2 linked regions of the Homo sapiens genome follow. The protein of the gene in region 2 interacts with the protein of the main gene of each other region in a biochemical or structural test. Each region holds a gene or a part of one and is shown on either strand. Other genes may lie near its edges. The genes, in order: CAT and ABL2.

Region 1 (13,681 bases), on a different chromosome or scaffold from region 2:
TTTTCTCCCTCTTGATTTTCAGTCATAAGGTCTTAATGTGTTAGGTGCCTGGTCATTTATTGTTGAATGCTGAACATTTCCATATAAAAAGGTCTAGAATCATTTGAGTTTCTATTTTCCACCAAAGAAAATTTTGTTTGCTTCTGACAGATGGCGTAGAAAGAGATCACCTTAATCCAATCTGAGACTGAGCAGAGGCAAAGTTATGTTTCCTGTATTGTGAAAGCAAGTTTATTTCATGTTTGCCCTTATTCCTAGGCATGGCCCTTTAAGGATTTCAACTGAAAGCCTTGAGTATAACTAGAGGCTCTGCTTCTTAGCAGACCTTGAATTCCAATTTTTGTCCCTTCAGACTCATGAGACTGCTGTAAACACCACTCAGCTTCTGGACCAGTGCTTACAAATTAACAAATACCTTAAGAGGAAAGGAAACCAAATGTCAAGCTTACTTCACTGCACTTTTTTTTCCTGCACTTCTTTTCCATCTTTGATCTTGGTCCCTTAAATCCTTGTTGCTTTGTTAGCTCTCCAAAGCCTTCAAACAAGTGCTTTATGTATTTTACCTACCTTTTCAATGTTCTCCATGAAACGGTAAGTAAGATACAAGCTAGTCTGCCATAGACAGATGCAAGCCCAAGTGAATCATTTTTAAGAGAATAAATCTGGACCTTCTTATGTATTTCCCATGTGATACATCATCACAGAATTATGCTATGAATCTATAACAATAGTATTGTGATTACTTAAAAACCACACTATATCCTATATAGTGATAAGAAATTCTCTCAATAAGAATGAGCACATAATAAATTTTCATGTGTAAGCAATAGCCTCATTAATTTTTGCAGGGGTTGTATGAGCTGGTTTAATACCTGTATTGACCTCACATAGGCAAAATTCTTTGAGAGGCAGGGAATGTACTGTAATATACTTGGTGTCATCTGCATCACCAAAAATAATGCAGTTACATAAAAGGTATGCAGGAAATGTTTTAAGCTCATCTAAAAATGGTTTATATCCCACAATAATGTAATTTCTTTTTTATATATACGTATATATGTATATACGTAAATGCTTTTCAAGCAAAGATATCCTCACAGCGAATTAATTCATGTATAAGTATTTTTTACTTGGAACCCACATTCACAAACTGAGAAACTAGAAATAGGTTCTAATCTAATTTAAATACTAAGTTTAACACTAACTGCTCAAACAGAGCTCTAGAACAACTATACCTTTAACTTTATTATTTTATTGTGTGTGGTATAAGTTGCACTGGACACATTAAGGAGGCAGCTGCCCACCTACAGCCCTTCCAAGTCCAAGGGCCTCCTTCATAGCATGTGCTGAAACAGCTCTTAGGGCAGCCATAGGCAACTGGAAAGAGGATGAGCATTTGCCCTGGGGCGGTTAACTAGAGCCTGACCAAGGCCAATGGTGCAACCTGGGGTGAAAAGATTAGCCAAGTCAATAGGATTCCATCTCTCTAGAATCTAGAGATAGACATGTTGAGAGAAGGAGTAAAAGGTGGTCCAAAAAAAAAAAGTAATAATGGAGAAAGACGCCATAAAGGAGAGTTTTCCATTGTTGTGGAAGAGCCACAACCATGATAAAACAGAAGCTCTGACGCAGATAGGAGAAAACAGGAAGCTGTGGTAAAAATAATCAATTAGCATTGGCAAGCAGAAGCAGACAGATGGAGAATAAGCCACGTGAAGGACGAGCCCTGCAGTGGAAACGCCCACACTCTTGTGGCCGAGGCTCCTGGAGCTATTTTGGATCTCTAGTTCTAGTCCTTGAACCTGGACTGTCCTGCCCAGATTCTTAGATTTGTCTCCACGTAAGCTGTACATGCTCATTTCTTAAATTCCCATGAGATAACTGTTTCCCCAATGCCCCCTCCCCATATCCCTTCAATAAAGTTTGAAGAAACTGAGACGGAGTCTGCATGCTTTGAGGCAAAAGACCAGAGTAATATAACCCTTCAACTCCACCCAGTAAGGGGCCCAATTTACTATTACAGATGAGTCTTCCTTGAATTCAATTTAAGATACATCAGACAGTTGGGGCATTTGCAGGGAGGGGGATTATGCAGGCATTGACAAGGAGAATTAGCAGGTGACTTCCATAGCAGATAAAGAGAAGTCATTACCTGAGTAACGTTATCATCATTGGCAGTGTTGAATCTCCGCACTTCTCCAGAATATTGGATGCTGTGCTCCAGGGCAGAAGGCTGTTGTTCCGGAGCACCAAAGCTGTTGGGGTAGTAATTTGGAGCACCACCTTCAAAACAAAACCACCCAGATGCACTTAGGAATAAGAAAAGTCAAGTAAGTCTGCAAATAATCACTGTGATGAGAAATAAATTCAAGTGGTAATCAAATACACACGTACACATACACAGATATAAACACAACGCACACATATTATTTTTAATTTCCCGCATTTAGCTACAGGTAGTATGAAGATTCTTAGGGAACGCTGCCATCTGCTAAATGCTTGCACAGGCTGCCGCACTTTATGAATGAATCTCAAAGTCCCTTTTGACACTTCAAAGGGTCTCATCTATCAAGTCTTCTGAGGGGTACAGCACATGTAGAAGTTTATACAGGCTTGATTTGGCCACCATATAGGGATGAGGCTCAAAGACACATTTCAAAATTGACTTGAAAAATTGTGTCATTTGGACTTGGGCTCAATTCAAACACTGCATCACAAAATTCTTGAGGGAAATCTGAAAGTTCTGGTTCTGCTCCTTGAATCTACAGACACAAGCATGGAGCTCTGTGATGGGACCTGACTGCTGCAAGGTCACACGGTAGCCAGTGGTAGATATGGGGTTGGAACTCTGGGTTTTTTGTCTCCTCCAGCCCAGCATATACAGTATTTCCATTACAGAACTCTACTTTGCTATTCCGTAAAGTGTTTTTAGGATTCTCAGGGTATCTCTCCTTTACTGACAATGATGACTTTGTTCCATTGTAGCTTCACTTTCATACCCTCCACAGACCAATAAACAAAGAATTTTTTAAAATGTGGTAATTGTATATCAGCACTTACTTATCTGGACTTATAAGAAACAGTGACAAATACAATCAAAATATTTTCTATGACTTTTGAAATAAATTATAAGGCTTTTTTTTCGTTTTAGCATATTTATTTTCTCAACTATGCTTTGGCTGACATTAGCAGAAGCTTTCATTACCCGAGCACACACTGCCTAAACAGGAGTGGCCCAGAAACATATTAAGTGGTTTGAGCAAACCAATCTGGGGTTGGAATTTTAGCCAGCTCACTGCCGTAATAGATTATCCACAGTGGATAATCAAGAGGTGCCTATGTATGACATTCATCAAGACACCAAGTGTGTGTGTAGGGGAAGGAAGAACACCATACTATTATAGAGCCCAATTATTCACTCAACAAATTCAACAGATCAGTCACATCTACATGAAAAGCAAAATGCTCCAAAAACCAGCCATCACAGTGTTTTCTTCATTAAGAACTAGCTCTTTGAAATGTGCCTAGTTAATTTTTAAAATCCTACTTCCAAATGAGCCCTGACCTTTACTCAAAGTGGTAGTTGTCTTTAAAGCACTGACCACAGGAACAATTAAGCTCTTTCACTGAGCTTCAGGGTCACAGCCCAAATGCTCTACTTTTACAATCAAGCCAGGCGCGGTGGCTCATGCCTGTAATCTCAGCACTTTGGGGGGCCAAAGTGGGTGGGTCACCTGAGGTCAAGAGTTCAGGACCAGCCTGGCCAATGAAACCCTGTCTCTACTAAAAATACAAAAATTAGCTGGCGTGGTGGCACACTCCTATACTTCCAGCTACTCGGGAGGCTGAGGCATGAGAATCTCTTGAACCCAGAGGCAGAGGCTGCAGTGAGCCAAGATCATGCACTGCACTCCAGCCTGGGCAACAGAGTGAGACTCTGTCTAAAAAATAAATAAATAGATAAATAAATATAGCAAAATGTAATAGCTATGACCTTTGGGTGTTGGGACTATATGGGAATTTTTCTTTTTTCTTCTTTTTCCTATATATTCCAAATTTTCTTTAGGACACTTGTATTATTTTTATCATAGAAAAATAAACTTTGTTTGAATATAGACATCTGTGGCTATAAATATAAATCATCAGTAAAATTTCTAAAGGGATCAATGCATGCAGTCTATATTACTAAAACACGTGTCCTAAATGGGAAAAGAAAATAACTAAGATCTATATTAAACTGTGGAATAGTAAAAGGAAAAAACTTTAATCAAGCATTCTGCTTGACTTATTAGAAAAAGTAATTAGAACCAGAGGCTGTTTGTATACGACACCAAAAAAAAAGTAGTTAAAAGAAAAAGATCCTAAGTTTGATAAATGAGTTCCAAAAAACAAAAAGTGGTAAGTTGATTCACCTAACTTTATTCACTTAGGAAAAAATGAAGGGAGGGGAATCCTTTGACTTGCTCTGCCTCCCCTACTCTCTTCTCCCCAGCCTTCCCTGCTAATTCTAGCTCCCCTCCAAATTCTAGCTAGACCTGCTCCTCCAGGGCCACAGCAGAACTGCAAAGAGAAACAGAAGACTCCAACTCTTGGCTTTCGCACTTCCAAGGGTCTAAGTCTTGGTGATTTCACAGTGAGTTAAGGAATTGTCCATTTTGGTGAAGTGTCTTCAAAACCTAACTCCCAAGCTGGATGTTACTGTACTCTAGCCAGTGTGAAAGATCTTTCTCCCTGCTTTTAACTACTGGATACAAGTAACATCTGAGGTGGAAATGCTCAATAAAATATATAAAATAGATAAAAAGCATGGAGAGTCCTCAGGCAGCCTAAATCTTCACTGCTGGGCAAAAAAGCGCCCAGTTAGCAGCACCTGGGGAGCACCTTTACCAAGCAGGAGGTCCTGCGGGGCCAGCTTGAGAGCCACTGGCCTGGCCTCCCGCCCATCTGCTCCACGTGCCCTCTGCCCACGCAGGGGGAGCCCAACGTCTTTAGGCCTACCCTGATTGTCCTGCATGCACATCGGGCCGTCACGCTGGTAGTTGGCCACTCGAGCACGGTAGGGACAGTTCACAGGTATATGAAGATAATTGGGTCCCAGGCGATGGCGGTGAGTGTCAGGATAGGCAAAAAGGCGGCCCTGCAGTAATAAATACAATAGACACTGACTAGGGGCAGTAACATATAACATAGGAATGGGCTGTAAACTTCATTCTGAAATTTGAAGTACAAAGCACTCTGTACATGGTTACCACAAAATTCTGCCTTTCCCGCTACTTAAGAGTGAAGCCTCTACTCTTATGAAACGAGTTCTCCCTAACTGAACAGTTCTGAATTTCCCAGGCCCTCTGGCCAACCATAAATCTTCACATCTGTTTTTGGTAATAATATCTTTTTTTTTTCCTTCTGCATAACAAGTTAGTGTCTTGTCTTATACAGTATTACTTCCTATTCCCAAGGAAGTATTGCATTATAAAATAAATGTGCTAGAACGTTAACTAACTGAAATATTGAATTAATTCTATTCCTCCTCATTCCCCCACTCCAGGGAAGGAACCAATCATTTGCTCTTTACAAAAAGCAACACATTTCTACAAAACCAACAGCATGGGAAATTCTTCAAATAAGCACTTCCAACTGGGCACAGTGGCCCATGCCTATTATAATCCCAGCACTCTGGAAGGCCAAGGTGAGAGGATCGCTTGGGCCCAGGAGTTTGAGACCAGCCTGGGCAACACAGCGAGACCTGTCTCTACAAAAAAAAAAATTAAAACATTAGCCGAGCATGGTGGCATGTGCCTGTAGTCCCAGCTACTCCAACAGGCTGAAGTGGGAGGACTGCTTGGCCCAGGGGATTGAGGCAGCAGTGAGCTGCAATCGTGTCACTGCAATCCAGCCTGGGCAACAAAGCAAGATCAGAAAAAAAAAAAAAAAAAAAAAAAAAGTACCGCCCACTCCCATGCTGCCTTCTGAATTATCTCAGAAACACTTTGAGCTCTGAGACTTTCTAGATATAAACAACAATAACAAAAAATCTGTGGTTCAAAATGAAAGCCCTACAATGCCAAAGGTAATCAATCTAAGATTAAATTATGTTCCATGTTAATCAAGGCAAAGATGGCAAGCATCTTGAAATTTCTTTCAGTTAATGCTCAAACAAAAGCTTTATGATAAATTCTGCATTAATCTTAATATCTAATTATTGAACTATTCTCATTATTCATACTCCTTTTCTATGAGCAATTTTTCTTCCATTGAATTTATCATTGGCCTTGAACCTTAAAAGTATTTTTATATCCCTAATTCTATGAGGCAAAATAAAAACCAAATTGAATAGGGCAACTTAAGCAATAACTTTGTTCCAAATCACTGATACCAACAGACTTAATCCAGTCCCAGTGTTCTGTCAATATTTTGCTTTTGGCTGAATGACTCCCTCTTATCATCATTTCAAATAGCCTAAGGTCATATTTAGATGACTAGCCATGCGGCCATGACCAAAACTCAGCTATAGGTTGGAAGCTGGTTGTCTCCTTTGGCTCAAAAAGTTGTGCTCTTGACTCCATCAACAGGATAGGAGATACAATCCTGCCATGGGCAGCTCCTGGATGTAGCCTCTATCACCTAATTCTGATTTTGTGTCACCCTGTGTTTATCAGGCAACCTTACCCCACCTATGGGTGGAGACCAACAAAGGTTGGGAAATGGGCACAGTGAGGCCATACCCTGACACCAGCTTGAATCTAGGCCTTCCCCAAGGCCCTGTGCCTGAACTCCCTTGCTGGACCTGCGTGAGTGGGAAAGCCTTTCCCACCCAAGCAACCGGCCCAACTTCTCCAACTCTTGGCAAAATGCAGAGAATGAGAGCAAGAAAGGCTGCACCTGTGTCCTCAGGTACTCAGGGGACAGGACAGTCTCTCTATGACTTGTATTATATTATTTGTCCATTTCACCATGGTGTGGCTCACCACTTTGGATAAAGTTATAAAACTTAATAACATGACCTTGTTAAAAGGCACCTGTAAACACTGCCCATTAATATATCAACCGCCACTGCCTAGGCTACAATACTCATGAGCTCTCAGCAGGAATAACCCCAAAGCCCCCCTAACTGGCTTTCCACTTCCTGTCCAACAAGACAATCTACATATTCCCTACTCACCTACTCAAAAAATCTCAAATCATTCCTTAATGGTCACCAAATGGCTAAATGAGTACAACAGTCCTTCCCCAACTGTATGGCTCCTCACAGGCTCCATGGTATTGGAACTGATAGCTAAATGACCTAAGAAGGATGGGGGAAAGCTAGGCTAGAAACAATAACTCGACAAACTTATGAAAGCTCTTTCGAACAGTTTCTAAAACTCATTTAAAAAAAAAACAACCTATAAAGAGTACACTGAATTTAAAATAGATATATTTGCCAGAACTAAAATTAATACTAACAGAAATTATATTACTTTCTACTTGTCATCCTTTTTCAGAACTCTCTTCCCCACTGTTTGAATAGCTGCCTTAGACATTTGCTTTCTTAGGAATGTAGAGAATACGTATTTGCTTTGCAGTCCTTTTCCCGGGGGCCTAGTTCTCCATTCAAATCTTCATTGTTCTTCAAATTATATGACTCAGTGCTGCTGACTGCCTCACGGTCCCACTGTGGTTCCAGAGACCCATGGTGACTTGGATTCTTGTGAAAAGAGTTTAGGTAACCTTGTATTCCTCAATCCGTTCCCTCCCTGGGTAACCAGGGTTATGCAGCCTCTGCTCTGCCCATGACAATTTCATGCCTTGGCAAATCCCATTAGCCTCATCCTCTCACAGTTCAGCCACCAGGTAGGGAGTTTTAGGGCCCAGGATTACCTTGTTTTGGCTTCCTCTACTCCCTGGTTTCAATGCAAACTTCTGCTTTTCCTCTGAGAACTGCCTGACTTTCCTTTTGCTATTCCCAATCCCTAGTTGTCGCTTTTTCTATTTATCACCAAGAGGAGTGATTCTACTCAATATATCCCAGACCACACTTCTCAAAACTGAAGAAAGCTTTTCACTCCTACTCAAGCATTTAAGGTCCCCTCTGACATATACTCAATGAACCTACCCAAACTCTATTCTTCTCATTCAGGAGAGAGTGACTGTTTATAGTTTCAACACACCTAACATGTCCCACCTTTGTGCCTATACTCATGTCCTTCTCCTGCCGCATTTTACCTACTAAAAATCAAAATCCTATCTATTCTTCAAAACAATCTCAAATGCTACCTCGTTCATGAAACTTCGTGGCTGACCTCCTATCAGACAAAATTTTGCTTTCTGGATCACCATGGCATTCTGCCTTACATTATGGCACCCAAGACAGTCCACCATACACAACAGACAGGTACTCAATTTGTAACAGTTGAATTGGACTAAAAACTAATGAAAAACTTACTTTCTATAAAAGCCTCAGATGTTCCCCAATGTCATAAGCAAAAAAGTTATTTTTTAAAAACGGAATCTTAGCTTGTCCTCCATGCAGACTGAAACCTGAACTGGAATCAGATACTTACATAAGAAGTAACCTTCAGTCGCTGTGGTCTGATTTAGGGTACAATCTTTAACCTTTGTTTCAAGGTCACAGTCTAAAACCACAAAAGATTGATTTATACAGTAATTATTAAGCCAATTATTTTCTTACTGATTCTGATCCAAAGTACAATTTTTCACTCTTGGTACTCTTGAAAGAGATATTAAAAAGTGATGTAAAACATACTGATGGCTTAACATTAGCAAGGTGAATGGTTAATCCACTGCTTTTATCACTGGCAGCATACATGTAGTTCATAAAGATCATCCCTAGATCTCTTTTTACAAATGGAAAAATTCAAGCATCACCATGAAACAGAAAATGAGGCCAGCCACGGTGGCTCACGCCTATAATCCAGCACTTTGGGAGGCGGAGGCAGGCAGATCACTTGAGGTCAGGAGTTTGAGACCAGCCTGGCCAACAGGGTGAAACCCCGTCTCTACTAAAAATACAAAAATTAGCTGGGCATGGTGGCGGGCGCCTGTAGCTAATCAAGAGGCTGAGGCAGGAGGATCGCTTGAACCTGGGAGGCGGAGGTTGCAGTGAGCCGAGATCATGCCACTGCACTCCAGCCTGGGCGACAGAGCAAGACTCTGTCACAAAAAAAAAAAAAAAAAAAAAAAAAAGAACAAGAAAATAAAGTTAGGCTTACCAAGGTATTATAATTAATTAACCATACTTCAGCTACAGACAGAACAAACCATGCTTCACTCTATCAATACTTAAGGTATTTCTATTATGTCTTTTTTTTTTAATTAAGAGAGTAAGTATTCTTGTCTTCACATATGTAGGGATCTTACCATGGACTTTTGTTTATACTTGGTTTACTCAAGGAATGCTCATTGAAGAATAGTTCACCTCAGTGAATCCCACAAGGTAACCAAGCACCCAGATTAAAGTTTAAGTAATGTTCTTGTTAATTCCTCACATAAAGATCATGCCAAGCTGCATATTTTGTGTGTGCATGCTCACATGGACACCTGCCTCAGAACATCTCAATCCACCAGGCTCACCTGAAGCATTTTGTCAGGACTGGCCTCAATGCCAGGTGGCATGTTGCTTGGGTCGAAGGCTATCTGTTCAACCTCAGCAAAGTAATTAACTGGATTCCGGTTTAAGACCAGTTTACCAACTGGGATGAGAGGGTAGTCCTTGTGAGGCCAAACCTGAAAATGATGTCATATTCACAATTACCAGGCAATCAACTGAAGGAAATCAAAGCTACCCACAAAAATACCAGATTTCAAATACAATCAAGCCAATGAAAATAATTTTTAAATCCAATAAAACATAAGAATTTAAGATGAGTGCCTTAGTTAAATCTTTCACAATAGTAAGTGGTAAATACTGACAGTTTCCCCAGGAAAAAGTACATCAGCTTTTCATAATCTGTTCCCTGTTAATAACAATATATGAAGCCACATACACATACTCAATGAAATGACAAACAGGAACGTGGAAGTAAGATGCTGGTAAGCACTCATTCACAGCTTAGGACACTCTGAAGTGGTACCCTCTGTATTTTGTATATGACTTCCCCATTATTATAATTGTTTGACTAGATTTTTTTTCTAATTAGGTAAGAAGAGACTTAAAAAAGAAAACAATATAGTTGTTTACTGACTCACCTTGGTGAGATCGAATGGATTAAATGGAAAAGTTTCTGCCTGATTAAATGTCATGACCTGGATGTAAAAAGTCCAGGAGGGGTACTTTCCTGTGGCAATGGCGTTAAAAAGATCCCGGATGCCATAGTCAGGATCTTCCTGGGAAAGTCTCGCCGCATCTTCAACAGAAAGGTTTTTGATGCCCTGGTCAGTCTACAAAATGAAAGAAAGAAGCTCCAATGGAAACTTATTGTCAAAGTTATCAAAATTTCATCAGTAATTCATTGAAGGATTATGAGTAACACTGCCCAAAGAATGAACTTTCTTTACAACAATACTTCTATTGTTCAAATCTGATACTAATGAATTTATCAACAAGAAATTCTACTTGATTATCCCAATACTTTTAAATGTCAAGGGAATCCCATCTACACATTTCATATTTAAAATCAGTCCTATCTTTCCCTTTATGTATTCTATTATTTGAATTTTTACACTCATGTTACTTTCCAAATCAGAAAAATCAAAATATACTTAAAAGTAGGCAAAAGATTAATAAAATTAAAGGACTACTTGCCTTTTATCATGAAGTAATGTTTTAATTCCATTTCATGACAGCTCAAATCAATTACTGAGACTGTGCTCGGCCAGTATCCCTTCACCCCTGTCCTATTCCTTTTTTTTTTTTTTTTAATAAATCATAGAATCATAGCTCATAGAGTTGAAAAGAACTTCAGTACAGCCACCTGGAACTAGTTCTCTGACTATGAGCAGGCAAAATTAATATTCTGACTTTCCAAGCAAGACATTAAAACCCAGAGAAGCTGTGTCACTTCATAAGTGCTCCTGTTATCATATCATACTGTTCTTTGATGGACTGACCATGTGATCTTATTCTCAAAGACCTCCCAACAAGCCAAGTGCCGCAGAAAGATTTCCTTAGCAAAAATCAACTCTGAACGCTGGTCTATTTCTACCACAGAAATCCCAACTGTCTCATCAGTGAAAAGGTTTGAACTCTTACTACTGAACAAGAAGTAAAGCCACCTTCAGGATTAAAACAATGAAGGTCACCATGTACAGATCGCCCAAAGAGCTAATATATTAAGTAGTACAATAACACTGCAATACCTTTCTGATTTTAACTGAATCCTTTAGGTTTAGAAAAGAATAATCTTAGGTCAGAATAATCCAGACTGATGAATCCATGTAGATCTCAGGCTACCTTAGGGCCCTAGGATAAAAGACCCACAAGCAATCCAATCTTTCCAGGACTTGTATAGCTGGTAATATTATGCCAACTTCACAGTGAAAAGAACTGGAGCTCAAAGAACTTTTAATACTATGCCCAAGGCCACAATTATCTAGGAGAGTAGAAATTTGAGTTCAGGCTGGCATAACTCCAAGGCTACCAACTAGACTGGCTGTCCTAGATACAACCACTTAGTCTTATTCTAAGTAATACTACATTGACCCTTTTGGCAATTACAAGCCAATGGGTCAACTGTTTCATAAAATTTTTCCTTGTCAAATATTATAGATCCAAGTTATGAATATAAAAAGAGGTGATAGTTTTCCTGTTTGATATACCTACATTAAATTGTTCAGATAAAGAAGAAAGCAGGATAGAAGAAAATAGGGCTTTTGGATGTCACTAAGAGAGAGATTATCCAGTACTGGTCACGAGCCCACTTCTTTCTGCTTATCTTAGCAGCAGTATTTGGAAACAGAGGTTCTCAGGCTTGTTTCTGACTAGCCCTTGGGAGTTCTCTGGGAATATCACTAACATGCCAGGGTTCACTGGCAATATTGCTCATTGTAACAAATGCCATGCTTATACCAAAAGAGGGCCCTTTATAATATTTCAGTTGATTAAAACATTCTCAAAACCCTCCCCAGATGTAACTGATTTGATCTGGCTATATGAATGCAAATTTTTAAAAACAGTATAATTTTGTTTTCTGACATTTGTAATTGATTTTACTTATATGCCTTGTTCATAATAAAACCTCAATAAATGCTAAGTAAATAGATGGATGACTTAAAAAGTTAAAAGAAATGATATTGGAAAGACACTATTGGATGTTGGAAGTGATAATGAGATTGGGATACGCTCCAAGGTCCTCAGATGGTAGCCAACAAAATCAGTACTGATCAATGAGATCAATACTTCCCAACTTTGGGGATGGAGGTGAGGGAAAAGTGGGAGAAGCCTTAATCTTTGCTCAATCCTTCAGGAAAAATAAGGAGGTATGCGGTAGGAGCCTTGTACCCTCTGCCCCAAAGGTAACACATACCTTATAATGGAATTTGCAATAAACTGCCTCCCCATTTGCATTAACCAGCTTGAAAGTATGTGATCCATATCCATTCATGTGGCGATGTCCATCTGGAATCCCCCGATCACTGAACAAGAAAGAAACCTAAAGAACAGAAATATAAAGCCTAAAATGTTTTCATTTAAATCAAAACATCCTTGATTTTTAAGATATTCCTTAGTTTCCAGAAAGTCCCTTAATGACATAAAACATACTAGCCAATTTCCCATGGGAAGGGTTACCATTATTATTTCACTTGTAGAAAATAACAAACAGAAAAATTTTAAATCAAAATGATATGCAAATCACTAATACTATGACTCAAAATTCTATGAAGGAAAGCCAAAACAACCTGAAAACTGGCCTAATTTGTTATTCAAAATTTATTTGCATAGCAAATTTGTTTGGTACTACTTTCCCCCCACTTCCTTAATACAGAGCTTTACCTTACACTACAGACTTTCATCCTTACTACTGCTAAATATCAACTGACAATGTTGCTAGCTATCTATCATCATCATCATCATCATTTAAGGCCGATGAATGGGGGATGATTAGTAAAGCCAGTTACTACAAAACTCTTCACGATCAAGAAATCTGAGGAAGCTGATTCCAATAAAATAGCCAAAACTGGAGAGACACTTTATGAAGAGGCATAATTAAACACTGCATCCCAGGTGATATAATACAATGGCAAAAAAGGGTTCATACCTGATGCAGAGACTCAGGACGTAGGCTCCAGAAGTCCCAGACCATGTCCGGATCCTTCAGATGTGTCTGAGGATTTCTCTTTTGGCTGTGGATAAAAGATGGAAACTAAATAGAAAAAAGAGAGAAAAAAATCCAAAAACTAAGTTTACAGGAATTATGGTGTCTTTCATTATATATGCCTATTACTAGGTTTATGGATTATAATTCTAAATACAATCCTAGAATTTTAAACTGCCAAACCATAATATGAAATTTACTCAGCATAGACAACTAGCATCTAAGATACCCTAAAGTATTTCAAATATACTCAAAACTATAGTCTTTTCTTTTTTTTTTTTTTTAAGACAGGGTCTCACTCTGTCACCCAGGCTGATTGCAATGGCATGATCACAGCTCACTGCAGCTTTGACCTCCTGGGCTCAAGCAAATCTCCCACCTCAGCCTCCCAAGTAGCTGGGACTATAGGCATGAGCCACCACACTTGGCTA
Region 2 (16,744 bases):
ATAATAATAAATAAAAATAAAAATATTTCATATACTGCCAGGAAGAAAGAATAAATATTTAAATATAAATAGATGAGCATGACCTCAGACTTGAGAATACTCAAGCTTGCAAGCTTGGAAAAATATTTGCTCAGAGCTGACGCCACCTTGACAACCACAGCATATAGCCAAGATGACTTTTCTCTTTAAAGATAGTTAATAATTTCAGGAAACAGAAGACTTGAAACAATTAGATCAAAGAACTTATAAAAGCATTAGAATTTTTCCAAATATCAGGGTCAATGAAAGAACAAAATAAAACAGAAAACAAGACATATAGTGATGAAGATAGGATTTCATAAAGTTTTCAGTCTAAGACTTAAAAGTGCAATTAGGCTGGACCTGCTGGCTCACATCTGTTATCCCAGCACTTTGGGAGGCTGAGGCGGGAGAATTGCTTTGAGCCCAGGAGTCTGAAATCTGCCTGGGCAACAAAAGAGATGTAATCCCTAAAAAAATTTTTTTTTTAATTTAACCAGGTGGGGTGGTATGTGCCTATAGTCCCAGCTATTCAGGGGGCTGAGGTGGGAGAATCACTTGAGCCTAGGAGGTCAAGGCTGCAGTGAGCCTGTACCACCGCACTTCAGCCTGAGCAACACAGTGAGATCCCGTCTCAAAAAATAAAAATAAAAATAAAATTTTTATAAGTGCAATTAAACTAAAAATACAGTAATCAAAGGAAAAACATATACAGGAGAATAAAACCAAATTTAGGCCAGGCATTGTGGCTCATGCCTGTAATCCTAGCATTTTGGAAGGCCGAGGCAAGTGGATCACTTGAGGTCAGGAGTTCGAGACCAGCCTGTTCAACACTGCGAACCCGGGTGATGGAGGTTGCAGTGAGCCAAGATCACACCACAGCCTGGGTGACAGAGCAAGAATCCTTCTCGAAAAAAAAAAAAAAATTTAAATAACTGTTTACCAATCAATAACTGCAAAGAAAACTCAGATTAGTTCAAAGCACCTCCGTGGAATAAAATCTGCACTGTAACATGCCAGGTACAATATCTCTGAGTGTACAATGAGGAAAATACTCTCTCCTTATGTATTTGTCCATTCTCACGCTACTGTGAAGAAATACCAGAGACTGCATAATTTATAAAGGAAAGAGGTTTAACTGACTCCCAGTTCTACATGTCTGGGGAGGCCTCAGGAAACTTGAAATCATGGTGGAAGGCACCTCTTCACAGGGCAGCAGGAGAGAGAACAGCCAAGTGAAGGGGAAAGCCCCTTATAAAACTATCAGACATGGTGAGAACTTACCATCAGGAGAACAGCATGGGAGAAACTGCCTCCATGATTCAATCATCTCCACCTGGTTCTACCCTTGACACGTGGGGATTATTACAATTCAAGGTGAGATTTGGGTGGGGACACAGAGCCAAACCACATCATCCTACTTGCTGAATATATCAATCATTTAAATACTACTGAGTGCCTGGCACCATTAAAGGTACAGGGACTACAAGGGTGAACAAGACCAAGTTCCTGTTCTCACAGGTCTTACCATCTAAAGCAGCAATGTCCATTAGAAATATAATGCAAGCTGGGCAGGGCATGGTGGCTCACACCTGTAATCACAGCACTTTGGGAGGCCAAGGCAGGTGGATCACCTGAGGTCGGGAGTTCGAGACCAGCCTGACCAACATGGAGAAACCCTGTCTCTACTACAAATAACAAAATTAGCCAGGCATGGTGGCAAATGCCTGTAATCCCAGCTACGCGGGAGGCTGAGGCAGGAGAATTGCTTGAACTCGGGAGGCGGAGGTTGTGGTGAGCCAAGATCGTGCCATTGCACTCCAGCCTGAGCAACAAGGGCAAAACTCCGTCTCAAAAAAAAAAGAAAGAAATACAATGCAAGCTGGCTGGGCGTGGTGGCTCATGCCTATAATCCCAGCACTTTGGGAGGCCGAGGCAAGAGGATCACCTGAGATCTGGAGCTCAAGACCAGCCTGACCAACATGGAGAAACCCTGTCTCTACTAAAAATACAAAATTAGCCAGGCGTGGTGGCACAAGCCTGTAATCTCAGCTACTTGGGAGGCTGAGGCAGGAGAATCGCTTGAACCTGGGAGGCGGAGGTTGCAGTGAGCCAAGATCACACCATTGCAATCCAGCCTGAGCAACAGGGGTGAAACTCCGTCTCAAAAAAAAAAAAAAAAAAGAAATATAATGCAAGCTACAAATGCCATTTTACTTTTTCTAGTAACTACATCAAAAATTTAAATTCAAAAAATTAATTTTTATATATATGTCTATCTAAAATATTATTTAAAACATGTAATCAATATAAAAAAATTAATGCAGTACTTTATATTCATTTTTTCCATACTGAGTTTTGAAACATAATGTGTATTTTATTACAGTACTTCTCAATTAGCTTATTTGTATTTATTTATTTATTTTTACGCTTATTTTTATTTTTGTCTTTTTTTTTCTTCCTTTTCGTGGAGAACAGAGTCTTGCTATGTTGCCCAAGGCAGGTCTCAAACTCCTGGGCTCAAGCTATCCTCCCGCCTCTGCCTCCCTGAGAGATGGGATTACAGGCATGAGCCACCGTGCCCAGCCTATTTATTTTTAAATACAGAAAGGGTCTCACTATATTGCCCAGGCTGGTCTCAAACTCCTGGGCTCAGGTGATCCTCCCACCTCAGCCTTCCAAACTGCTAGGATTACAGGTGTGAGCCACCACTCCTGGCCAATACTTCTCAGTTAGGACAAAGGACATTTCAAGTGCTCAAGAGCCACAGTGGCTACTAGCTGCCATCCTCAACAGTACCAATATAGGGAGGAAATGGATGGGTGCTGCTAATTTTTTTTCCATTTTAAATCTTGTCATATTCTTTGACTTCTAAAACTGCCTGCATGTATTACTGTGGTAAAAATAACTAAAAGAGTCCAGGCGTGGTGGCTCACACCTGTAATCCCAGTACATTGGGATGCTATAGGCAGGAGGATTGTTTGAGCCCAGGAGGCTGCAGTGAGCTATGATCATGCTACTACTGCACTCCAACCTGGGTGACAGAGTAAGACCCTATCTCTTAAAAGAAAAAAATTATCTAGAAATATCAGTTTTAATAAAATAAAAATATCAGTACAAAGTTATTAGATGCAATACAAGTAAGGCAACCAAACCTAGACTCAAGATGGACATACAAAATCAAGGCTTCCTATACATTAGCAATAAGCAATTAGGAAAGATTATACTTAACAACAAAAATCATAAAATGCCCACTAATAAACCTACCAAGTAATGTCCAAAAACAAGATTAAGAAAATGAAAAAGATTTTACTGAGGGGCAAAAAAAGATCTGCCTGGACTGGCAAAGGGATGTCATGTTCTTGGCCATAAAAACACAATAATGCAACATCAATTCACCCCCAAATTAACCTATAATTTGATATGACCATCAAAATCTCCTAAATCTTAACAACATAATCCTAAAGATCTTTGGAAGATATAAGATGCAACATCTAAATAAAATTTTAAGAACAACATAATGATTGGGGAGCTAACCACATACACATACACACTATATAAGCTTACAATAATTAAAATAGTATATTAACAATGTGCAGGAGGAGACAAAGATCAATGGAACAACAGTTTTAAAATGACATATATATATATATATATATATATATATATATGAGAATATATGATAAATATGGCTTTTCAAATCAGTGGAGAATTGATGGACTATTCACAAATTAATACAATGGAAAAACATTGTTTGTTCCAAGCTCAAATATATATACCCTTCGGATGGATTCAAATTACAAACATAAAGAAAAAACACAGGAAAGATGGAGAAGATATTTAAATATTCTTATAAACAAGTATTCATCAATAAGAAAGTGGTTAAATATATGGCTAAAGCATGGGACACTATAAAGCTGTCAAAAAGGATGAGAAATCTACAAATACTGGAATAGAAAGACCTTCCAGATAAATAAACACACACACAAAAATTGTGGGTCGGGCACAGTAGCCCATGCCTGTAATCCCAGCACTTGGAGAGGCCAAGGCAGACAGATTGCCTGAGGTCAGGAGTTTGAGACCAGACTGGCTAACATGGTGAAACTCCTTCTCTACTAAAAATACGAAAATTAGCCGGGTGTGGTGGCGGGCGCCTGTAGTCCCAGCTACTAGGGAGGCTGAGGCAGGAGAATCGCTTGAACCCAGGAGGTGGAGGTTGCAATGAGCCGAGATCATACCACTGCACTCCAGCCTAGGCAACAGAATAAGACTCAGTCTCCAAAAAAAAAAAAATTGGGGAGAAAATTCATACAGTATAATGCCATTTATGAAACGGCAAGAGAAGTGTTAATATATATACTCATATATATGTAAATACACAGCAAGTTCTGAAATGGCTGGGTGTGGGAAACACCTATCGAACCACAAACAGTAGTTTCTTCTAATAAGGGAATATGTATTGGGCCAAGAATGTCAAAGGGGACTTTCATGTCTAGTCTATATGCTTCTGAATTATTATTTTTTTAACCTTGAGATACCTTTGTATATTTTTATGCAACTGAAAAATGCATGGCCAGGCACTGTGGCTCACGCCTGTAATCCCAGCACTTTGGGAGGCAAAGGTGGGTGGATCACTTGAGGCCTGGAGTTCGAAACCAGCCTGGCTAACAACCCTTTCTCTACTAAAAATACAAAAATCAGCTGGGCGTGGTGGCACATGCCTGTAATCCCAGCTACTCAGGAGGCAGAGGTTGTAGTGAGCTGAGATCATGCCACTGCACTCCAGCCTGGGCAACAGAGCCAGACTCTGCCTCAAAAAAAAAAAAGAAAAGAAAAGTGCCAATTTCAAAATGAGTAAAAGAAAGCTACTGTAACAAAAACCTTCAGGTATCAACCTTTCTTTCCTATAAGGAACAGATGAGTGATACAAATTGTACTTGTTAGTATTGTCAGTTTTTTTTAATGTTTTCTTAGCAATTACCTAGAAACAAAATGCTAAGTGGTAATCTTCAGTCCTAACTCAGTACTGTTTTTTTAATTTGCTGGAATTAGCACACAGAGAGAAACATGTTAACAAAATTACATGTGTACATATTATGTATTATACTAAGCTCCAGAATATTTTTTTGACCTTGTCCACATGAAGTGAAAGGTTTTTGAACACTTCTTCTCCCTAGAAAGCAAACCCGAGAATACAAATGGCCTGGGCCTGCCCAGCTTTAGCGTTCTGCTGGATCAAAAGCCAATAATGGCAGAGTTCACTATAGAGAAGCCGGCAGTTCTACCACGGCAGAATCAGCACATTTACAGCAACCAGCAAGTGGGAAAAAAGCTAAGTGCTGTTTTCATATTTTTAAGCAACTAAGTTTAAACGTTGGATAGTAATATATTTAATGTGTATTTATCCATGAATTTGAGTGAATTTCATTTGAAAATACTGACAAAATGTTCTAATTAGTATAATGACAACAAATTTACATACTGAAATTATGCACTCAATCCAAAAAGGCAACCAAGAGTTTTTGTACAAAATATCCTCACAAACACAGACACACACATCTCTTTTTAGTTGTTTCGTAAGGATGTTCATCAACATCTATTTGATCAGCAACATTCTTTTAGATAGCAGTTCTGTCTAAATTGTATCTAAAAATTCTCTCAGAGCCATCAACATAGGCAATTAGTACAGAATAAATGAATAAAAAAATAGAAAATGCTCTGGAGTGTTAAGCTAAAATTTTTTAAAAATTCTCCTGCCATTATCACCTGGGGGAAAAGGTCTTTATAAGTTGCATATTGCAATAATAAGCTAAATATATCATGTGGTTACACAGATTCTTTTTTTTTTTTGGCTGGACTGCAGTGGCGTGATCTGGGCCTGCAACCTCCACCTCCCGGGTTCAAGCAATTCTTCTGCCTCAGCCTCCCGAGTAGCTGCAACTACAGGCGCACGCCACCATGCCCGGCTAATTTTTGTATTTTTAGTAGAGGTGGGGTTTCACCACATTGGCCAGGCTGGTCTTGAAGTCCTGACCTCATGATCTGCCTGCCCTGGCCACCCATAGTGCTGGGATTGCAGGCATGAGCCACCTCACCCGGCCAGTTACATAGATTCTAATATAAGATGATTGGAGGCCAGGCGTGGGAGCTCACGCCTGTAATACCAACACTTTGGGAGGCCAAGGCAGGCGGATCACTTGAGGTCAGGAGTTCAAGACCAGCCTGGCCAACGTGGTGAAACCGTCTCTACTAAAAATACAAAAATTAGCTGGGTGTGGTGGCGTGCACCTGTAATCCCAGCTACACAGGAGGCTGAAGCAGGAAAATCGCTTGAACTCAGAAGGCCGAGGTTGAACCCAAGAGGCCGAGGTTGCAGTGAGCCAAGATGGCACCATTGCACTCCAGCCTGGGTGACAGAGCCAGACTCCATCTCAAAAAAAAAGAGCCGCTCGGCCTGTGGCTCAGTCAGGTGTGGTGGCTCACACCTGTAATCCCAGCACTTTGGGAGGCCAAGGTGGATGAGTCACCTGAGGTCAGGAGTTCAAGACTAGCCTGGCCAACATGGTGAAACCCCATCTCTACTAAAAACACAAAAATTAGCCGAGTGTGATGGCATGCACCTGTGGTCCCAGCTACTCGGGAGGCTGAGGCAGGAGAACCGTTTGAACCCAGTGGGTGGAGGTTGCAGTGAGCCTCGATCGTGCCATTGCACTCCAGCCTGGGCAACAGAGCAAGACTCCACCTCAAAAAAAAAAAAAAAGAAAAGAAATATTAGTAACACTAAGCCTAAAGATTAAGACAGGAGTTCAACATTACCATGAGATTCCAAATGGTATGGTGAGTTCCCACCTCTCCTTCATTAGACCATCATATATATCTAAGACTCAATCCATAGCCACATACTATACAAATCTAACCCTGGTCTACCAGTCTGAAAACCTCATCACTGGTCAAGACAGATGGGGTAAAAAATACCTAAAAATCTTTGTATTATATATATACATACATATGTATAACTACATACACACATATTCTAAAAGGTAACTAGGCACCAGCATATACCAAAACTATAGAATCACAAACAGACATCCCATCTTCTTTGGTCTCTAATATTTTTTAATTTGAGCAACGAGGGTTTTATGAGTTTTAAAAGAAAAAACAGATATTGAGTACTTAGAACATGCCTGGCACACAGCCCTCAATAAATGGCAATTATTTCATTACCCAATTCTTCCAGGAACTGTAGCCCAATCTGCTCAAGAATGAGTCAGCAGAACTGTTTTCTACTTCCCCTTTCCCTGATAACTCCAGATTTTTTTCAAAAATGTGTCTCTCAAGAGACCTCTAATGTACGAACTTTTAGAGATAAACCACCAAAAAAATGGTATAAGACTGTGGTGACTTGCATGTGGACACTAATAGGCTAGGAACAAATGAATTTCTGAACCAGTTTTGAAGAGAGTTAGTACATTACATCCTGTTTTCTGACAGTCATTCAATCACCTCTGATCAAGTACTCTTTTCTTTTCTTTTTTTGAGACAGTCTCGCTCTGTCACCCAGGCTGGAGTGCAGTGGTACGATCTCGGCTCACTGCAGCCTCTGCCTCCCTGGTTCAAGCAATTCTCCTGCCTCAGCCTCCCGAGTAGCTGGGACTACAGGCGTACGCCACCACGCCCAGCTAATTTTTGTATCTTTAGTAGAGATGGGGTTTCACCATGTAGGCCAGGAGGATGGTCTTGATCTCCTGACCTTGTGATCCACCTGCCTTGGCTTCCCAAAGCACTAGGATTACAGGCGTGAGCCACCACACCAGGCCAAGTACTCTTCTTAATCTCACATGAGCAGGAGATTCTCAAAGCATGGTCCCCAACCAGCAGCACCTGTAACACCTGAAAATTTGCCAGAAATGCAAATTCTTGAGCTCCTCCTCAGCCCTAAATCAGAAACCCTGGAGGTGGGACCCAGCAATCTGCTTTAACAAGCTCTCCACGCTCAAGTTTCAGAACTGTTCTATATGATTTGAAGTAGCTACATATTTACCTCGTCCAGAAGACATCTGTTAACATGGAAAAGGTTCTTAAGTATTTTGAAATCTCTGTATGTGCAGTGCCACATTAAGAAAAAGCCCATCTGACTCACAACTTCAAGAAGATAATCACACTAAACAAGTTTTCTTTTTGAGACAGGGTCTCATTCTGTCGCCCAGAATGGAGTGCAGCGACGTGATTATGGCTCACTGCAGCCTCAACCTCCTGGCCTCAAGTGATCCTCTCACCTTAGCCTCCCCAGTAGCTGGGACTACATGTGTGCACTAGCACGCCTGGCTAGGTTTTCTATTTTTTGTAGAGACAGGGTTTCGCCACGTTGCCTAGGCTGGTCTTGAACTCCTGAGCTTAAAGCAATCCACCTGCTTCGGCCTCCCAAAGTGCTGGGATTACAGACGTGAGCTACCATGCCTGGCCTAAACAAGCCTTTAAGAAGAAACTTTACATCCAGAGGTAAAAATAACACAGAGAAGAAGAAAAAAAAAGGTCTTAAAGGATGTCAGATGAAGAAGGTTACAACAAAGTCATTTAAAAAAGTCATTAACTATTAACCAGCAAACAAATGGGCCAACTTAGAATGAAGTCTCTATCAACTTTAAATTTGCATTGGCCAGTGTTTCTGGTTCAAGTTCTTTGATGGAAGAAAAAGATGTCTACAAGAACCAGGCACTACATATACTGATACCCAGTCCCTAAGACAAAGACAAATGGTCTAGAGAGGATATCACTTACCTTACAAGGAAGGTAGACCTAAAGTGATTTCAGATTCTCCTGTGATTTCAGATCCCCAAAATTCCCTTACCTTTTACTGCTTTCTGAAAGTCCTCTAATAAGAGTAGCTTAATAAGAAGAGAAAATGAAGTAATAAATATAAATGCTAAGGCAATTCTACACTTTGGCATGCCATCACAATGATAACAATAGCAGTGCTTAGGTTTACAAAACATTTTCACATACAACTCATATAATCTTCACAATCATCTTGAGGTAAATAATGACAATAAAACTGATATTTATTGAGCACCACAGTGCCTGGCACTTAAGAGTCTCGTACAATTTTATCACTTAATTATTTCAACAACCTGTTGTGAGGGATAAACCATGTACCAATGTCAGACACAAAGCAAGATTTATATCCAATTATAACTGATTTTAAAACCCACATTCTCTAAATCTCCACATTATGGCAAGACTTGGAGACAAAACTATCAGTCCCAGCTCTATCATTTAACAGCTATGTAACCTCAAGAAGTCACTTAATTTTCTAAACTCTTCATCTACAAAATGGGAAGATTAATACCTGCTTCACCTATTTCAGAGTAGTTGTAAAGGTCAAGTGAGATGAAAGACATAAAAGGTCTTCTTCAAAAGCTCTAAAAACTACACAAACATTATCATTCCCTATTTTGAAAGAGACTGAAGTAAAGAGGAATAAAAACATACAATGGTGGGGAGATGCTGGTTTTTCTTGTTTGGTTTTTGTTTTCCGTTTAAAGCAGGTTGAGCACCAGCTGCCTGCCACTTGTGAGCTGGGTATGTGCCGCACAGGACAGTGCCTTGTTTAGGCGATGGTCACTTTGTCAGGAAAATCTACCAAGGAAGAAATTACCAAACCATGTCTTTTTTTCTGTTTATGGAGTAGTTCACAGCAAATCTTGAGTGTTTTGACTAAAGCATGGAATACAGAAAACAAACTTCAGCTAGTGCTTTAATCTCTGCTGAAATTCTACAGGTATGTGTTTTATAAGCAGTATATGGCAGGATTTTAAGCCAGTCTGAAAGTCTGGTTTTCAGTAGCATTATTTCTGACAGCTACATACTGCTGAATGTTCAACTGGTGAAACTGAAGGTCTTTTCACTCAGAAGAAATCAATCAAGAAGAACTTGCAGTTCGCAAGCTTCTGAGCTGCTGTGGATGGCCCTGGCTCTCCAGACTGCCCTTCCCACTGAGATCTCTCACATGGGGTCTCCTGCTGCTGCCACTCCTGACTCTCCTCCTGATGTGGTACCTCTCAGCCTTCCCCACTACAATGTGACAGAATATGTAGACTGGATGTACTTTTACAAGTATGAGCCAATTTACAGATGAGGCTTTCACTTCACATTTTGAGAGCATTCAAACTGCTCTGATCAAAATCCAATTCTGGTTATCCTAGTGACCTCCCACCCCTCAGATGTGAAAGCCAGACAGGCCATTAGAGTTACTTGGGGTGAAAAAAGTCTTGATGGCGATATGAGGTTCTCACATTTTTCTTAGTAGGCCAACGGGCTAAAAGAGAAGACAAACTGTTAGCACTGTCCTCGGACGATTAACATCTTCTTTATAGTGATGTAATCCAACGAGATTTTTTAGACACATACAAAAACCTGACCTTGAAAACTGGCCAGGCACAGTGGCTCACATTTGTAGTCCCAGCACGTTGGGAGGTCAAGGCAGGTGAATTACTTGAGGCCAGGAGTTTGAGACCAGCCAGGCCAATATGGTGAAAACCCATCTGTACTGAAAATACAAAAATTAGCCAGGCATGGTGACGTGTGCCTGTAATCCCAGCTACTTGGGAGGCTGAGGCACAAGAATTGCTTGAGCCCAGGAGGTGGAGGCTGCAGTGAGCCAAGATCGCACCACTGCACTCCAGCCTGGGTGACAGAGCAAGACTCCGTCTCAAACAAACAACAAAAACAACCTATTATGGCATTCAGGTGGGTAACTGAGTTTTGCCCCATTGCCAACTACATCATGACAACAGACACTTATGTGTTCATCAATACTGGCAATTTAGTGTAGTATCTTTTAAACTTAAACCACTCAGAGAAGTTTTTCACAGGTTATCCCCTAATTGATAATTATTCCCATAGAGGATTTTACCAAAAAAAAAAAAAAACGTATTTCATACCAGGAGTGTCCTTTCAAGGTGTTTCCTCCCTACTGCAGTGGGTTGGGTTATACAATGCCCAAAGATTTGGTGCCAAGGATCCATGAAATGATGGGTCACGTAAAACCCATGATGTTTATGTCAGGATCTGTTTGAATTTATTAAAAGTGGACATTCATATTCCAGAAGACACGAATCTTTTCTTTCTATATAGAATCCATTCAGATGTCTGTCAATTTGGATGTGTGATTGCAGCCCACGGCTTTTCTTCCAAGGAGATGATCACTTTTTAGCAGATTATGCTATGGAACATCACATGCCATTAACTTCGCATTCTATGAAAAGCCTAGAAGAACAGGATACTCTGCGGAAAGTGTTAAAGTTCCTACTGTGAAAAGTTCATGGAGAGGTCAGTGTACTGGCTTACACTTAACTTTTTTTTCTTTTGAGACAGAGTCTTCGCCCTGTCCCTCAGGCTGGAGTGCAGTGGCGTGATCTCAGCTCACTGCAACCTCCGCCTCCTAGGTTCAAGTGATTCTACAGCCTCAGCCTCCTGAGTAGCTGGGATTACAGGTGCCCGCCACCATGCCTGGCTAATTTTTTTTTTTGAGACAGGGTTTTGCTCCTGTTGCCCAGGGTGGAGTACAGTAGCACGATCTCGGCTCACTGCAACCTCTGCCTCCCAGGATCAAGCGATTCTCCTGCCTCAGCCTCTTGAGTAGGTGGGATTATAGGTGCGCGCCACCATGCCCAGCTAATTTTTGTATTTTTAGCAGAGACAGGGTTTCACCATGTTGGCCAGGATGGTCTCGATCTCCTGATCTCGTCATCCACCCACCTCGGCCTCCCAAAGTACTGGGATTACCAGCATGAGCCACCGCGCCTGGCCTGAAACTCACCAGGAACCCACAAACTGGTTACACCTTATGATTTATTTTGACAAAAATCATGTCAGATCCTTTAAAGATGATATTCAGAGGAATATATTTAAAATACCTTTAAAATAACAACAACAACAAAAAAAAAACAGGCCGGGCACAGTGGCTCACGCCTGTAATCCTAACACTTTGAGAGGCTGAGGTGGGCGGATCATTTGAGGCCAGGAGTTCGAGACAAGTGTGACCAACATGGTGAATCCCCATCTCTACTAAAATACAAAAATTAGCCAGGTGTGGTGGCAGCCGCCTGTAATCCCAGCTACTCGGGAGGCTGAGGCAGGTGAATTGCTTGAACCCAGGAGGAGGAGGTTGCAGTGAGCCAAGATCGCGCCACTGCACTCCAGGCTGGGAGACAGAGCAAGGCTCCCTCTCAAAAAAAAAAAAAAAAAAAAAAGTCCAGATGCAGGGCCTCATGTCTGTAATCCCAGCACTTTGGGAGGCCAAGGTGGGAGAATCACTTGAGCCTAGGAATTTAAGACCAGCCTGGCCCAGTACAGCAAGACCCCATCTCTACAGAAAAATTTAAAAATTAGCCAGGCATGGTAGCACGCACCTATAGTCCCAGCTACCCAGAAGGCTGAGTCAGGAATGGCTTCAGCCAGGAGTTTGAGGCTGCAGTGAGCTATCATCATGCCACAGCACTCCAGCCTAGGCAACAGAGCAAGACCCTGTCTCAAAAAAAAAAAAAAACCACCTAAGTAAATAAATAAACTATCGAATAAAGCAGGCTGAAGACCCTTACAGAGAAACTTCAGACTTCATCACTTTACTTGGAATTTTACTGCCAAGTGGGCTATGAGAACAGAATCTGTACCACAACTTATTACTTTGCTAAAAATATGGACCCCAACTACACATCTATAACTTACACAGATTTGGAGATTAATAAAAATCTAACAGCTGATTTTTTTTTAAAAGTTTAGTCTGCAGGATTGGCACTCAAGAAAAAAAGAAAAATAAATAAAAATAAAAAATGAAGTTTAGTTCTTATATTAAGTCACCACAATTAAAATTCCCTCACAACAGCCTTCCTGTGCTTTCCATAGCATCGTTTTCAACCTGGGGTGCCAACAGCCTTCATTCCACAAAGATTAAAACATGAACTACTGGCCGGGTGCGGTGGCTCACACCTGTAATCTCAGGACTTTGGGAGGGCAAGGCAGGCAGATCACTTGAGCCCAGGAGTTCAAAACCACCATGGGCAACATGGCAAAACTCTGTCTCTACAAAAAAAAAAAAAAAATAGAAAGGCATGGTGGCGTGCACCTATAGTCCCAGGTATTCAGGAGGCTGAGAGGTGAGAGGATCACTTGAGTCTGGGAGGTCAAGGCTGCAGTGAGCCATGATCTCGCCAATGCACTCCAGCCTGGGCAAGAGAGTGAGACCCTACTCACTACAAAAAAAAAAAAAAAAAAAAAAAACTACAGATCCAAAATAAAAAATAAATAAATAAATCAGATCACTTAAAATAATGAGTTTGATTTAAGGAAAAATTTTTGTTATTCCAAACTTCATAATGTAAGGGTTTTTGTTTGTTGGTTTTTTTGGAGACGGAGTCTTGCTCTGTCGCCCAGGCTGGAGTGCAGGTGCGCGATCTCGGCTCACTGCAAACTCCGCCTCCGGGGTTCAGGGGATTCTCCTGTCTCAGCCTCCTGAGTAGCTGGGACTATAGGTGCCCGCCACCACACCTGGCTAATTTTTGTATTTTTTTAGTAGAGACAGGGTTTCACCATGTTGGCCAGGCTGATCTCGAACTCCTGACCTCAGGTGATCTGCCCACGTCGGCCTCCCAAAGTGCTGGGATTATAGGTGTGAGCCACCACGCCCAGCCTAAAGTTAATTTTTAATAGAATTTTTAGAAAATGAGAGAGGGAAGCTAAAGTAAAATCATTCAGCTGTTAAAAGGTATGTGAGATATTCAACAGCAAGTAAGTATTCAACCCTAGATTATTAGTCATGAAACATCAGCTCACCAGAAAGGTTTAATAGCAGAGCTTGCCTCTCGCAGTGGCTCACGCCTATAATCCCAGCACTTTGGGAGGCCGAGGCAGAGTATCACCTGAGCCTAGGAGTTTGAGACCAGCCTGAGCAACATAGTGAGACCTCCGTCTCTACAAAAAAAAAAAAAAAAACACAAAATTACCCAGGTGTGATGGCGTGTGCCTGTAGTCTCAGCTCCTCGGGAGGCTGAGGCAGGAGGATTGCTTGAGTCCAGGAGTTTAAGGCTGCAGCGATCTACGATCGCAGCACTGCACTCCAGCCTGGGTGGCAGAGCAAGACCTTTCTCTAAAATAAAACATAAAATAAAAGAGTTGACAAAAAAAATAGCAGATCTCAGAAAAGTCACACAGCACTCACTCCTTTCATACCAAAAATGGCTCTATTATTTTTGTTCCTTCTAAATTACATTCACAAAAATCACTTTTGGCAAGGCAAATTATTATCACAGCTTACCCACATATTATTAACGATAAAAAATGACCATTTTAGCTAAAGAAAGAAAAGTCCTGGACTCTGATAAACCATTTCCATAATGTATGTACCTTTTTACTGATTAACTAAATGTATTATTTGGCTTATATTAAAACCTACATGTAAACCCAAGAGTCTAACAGACCTAACATTCATATATGAAATTATGTGCTAATACCTCAATATGGCAAACTCAAGACAGTAATTTGTACACTAGATTCGAGCACCTACATTTACCATGTAAAGGTCAAATGATACATCCACTGAGAAGCTTTCGAATCTAATTCATTCATTCATTCATTCAATTCAGAATCTATCACATTTCTAAGTGGTGTCCTCAACTAGGGGCAATTCTGCCCCCCAAGAGATTTAACAATGTCTGGAGGCATTTTTATAACAAGTAAGGGGCAAAAAGAAGGTGCTACTGGCATCTAGTGGGTAGAGTCCAGGGATGCTGCTAAACATCCTACAATGCACAGGACAGCCCCCCAAAACACAGAATTAGCCAGCCCAAAATATCAATGCCGCCGAGGTTAAGAAACTATGACGTGGCCGGAAGCGGTGGCTCATGCCTGTAATCCCAGCACTTTGGGAGGCCGAAGAGGGCGGATCATGAGGTCAGGAGATCAAGACCATCTTGGCTAACACGGTGAAACCCTGTCTCTACTAAAAATACAAAAAAAAATTAGCCGGGCGTGGTGGCAGGTGCCTGTAGTCCCAGCTGCTCGGGAGGCTGAGGCAGGAGAATGGCGTGAACCCGGGAGGCGGAGCTTGCAGTGAGCCGAGATCGCGCCACTGCACTCCAGCCTGGGCGACAGAGTGAGACTCCGCCTCAAAAAAAAAAAAAAAAAAAAAAAAAAAGAAACTATGATGTACAGAAAAAAACTTTTTAAACCCATCTGTCTAAAAAACAGTACTCACTGCACCTTTGTTTCCTATATTATTTGCTAATTCCTTTCTTTTCATACTAGTCTTTGGCAATAAACTCGACCTATTCCCATTTTTTCAATCAGCTTCTAACTTCCAAACTTGTCAATAGAATCTTCATCATCCCAGTTAGCCAGGTTCTAAATCCTGGTGTCATCTTTGAATTATCCCTACTTTTTTTTTTTTTTTTTTTTTGAGACAGAGTCTCGCTCTGTCACCCAGGCTGGAGTGGCGCGATCTTGGCTCACTGCAACCTCCACCTCCCGGGTTCAAGCGATTCTCCTGTCTCAGCCTCCTGAGTAGCTAGGACTACAGGCGCGTGCCACCATGCCCAGCTAATTTTTCTATTTTTAGTACAGACGAGGTTTCACCATGTTGCTCAGGCTGGTCTCGAACTCCTGACCTCATGATCTGCCCACCTCGGCCTCCCACAGTGCTGGGATTACAGGCGTGAGCCACCGCACCTGGCCGAATTACTCCTGTTTTTAATAATAACAGTAGTATTAGTAATGGCAGCAGCTACACACATTTAGCTCATACTATGTGCCCAGCCACTATTCATTTAATACTAGGTACTATTATTATCACCACTTTACAAATGAAGAGTCCAAGACACAAAAAGTTAAATAACTTGTCCCAGGTCACAAAGCTCATAAGCAGCCAAGCAAGGTTTCAAATCCAGGAAAAATGGGTCCAGAGTTCATGCCCTTAACAAATACTCCAAAGTGATCTCTCTTCTTTCATCCTCTATCAAATCATAAAGTCCTTTAAGTTCCAAAGGGCAGGGACTCTGTTATGTTCACAGCAACATTCCCACAATCCAGTACATAACAGGTGCTCAAAAAAAACCCTTGTTTGTTGAATGAATGAAAGGACCCTTGAAATTACTCCTCCCATTTCCACTGCCACCACTCAAGGCCAGTCTTTCAGGTAAAGACTAGCCAATCAGGTAAATGGATATAAACTTCTCTGCCAGATTTTCCATAACCCAGTCCCATCCAGCCTATCAAAATTTTCTTTCTACTGCTTCTTAATTAGAATCATAAAATCTTAAAACCAGAAAGTATCTTAGAGATCATCCAGTCCAACCTCCTCACTTTACAGATAAAGAAACCCAAAGATGGTGACTAAAATCACCCAGGCAGGTGGAGCCAGAACCAGAACTTGACTCTTCCAATTTTTGCTCTATGATCTTTTTCTTCCAACTCATAATGATGCTTCATTCCTGACAGCTGTCTCCTCACTAGCCCATCAACAAATTATATCTATTCCCATGTTCCCGTTCAAGTTGTTTCTTCTACCCAAATTGTTCTCCCTCTCCATAGATCCAAATCCTCAAAATGTCTTCCTATTCCATTCTTCATGACTTCCTCTTTCTTGGAAAATCTTACATACCGAATAAGATAGTAAAGCAAGAGGATCACCATTGCCTACTAGGCCAAGTTTAATGCATAGTAACACTTCCCACAA

The links.
Region 1: the proteins of ABL2 (region 2) and CAT form a complex in vitro, tested with the Homo sapiens proteins (one study listed by BioGRID).

Annotation. Positions count from the first base shown.
Region 1 is NC_000011.10:34,452,707-34,466,387, reverse strand, and holds part of CAT (catalase), read right to left. Parts: intron 13,299-13,681; coding exon 13,194-13,298; intron 12,588-13,193; coding exon 12,462-12,587; intron 10,378-12,461; coding exon 10,186-10,377; intron 9,724-10,185; coding exon 9,571-9,723; intron 5,138-9,570; coding exon 4,999-5,137; intron 2,284-4,998; coding exon 2,153-2,283; intron 1-2,152. UniProt on the Homo sapiens protein: Catalyzes the degradation of hydrogen peroxide (H(2)O(2)) generated by peroxisomal oxidases to water and oxygen, thereby protecting cells from the toxic effects of hydrogen peroxide.
Region 2 is NC_000001.11:179,210,863-179,227,606, forward strand, and holds part of ABL2 (tyrosine-protein kinase ABL2), read right to left. Parts: intron 1,147-16,744; exon of another isoform or gene 1-1,146. UniProt on the Homo sapiens protein: Non-receptor tyrosine-protein kinase that plays an ABL1-overlapping role in key processes linked to cell growth and survival such as cytoskeleton remodeling in response to extracellular stimuli, cell motility and adhesion and receptor endocytosis.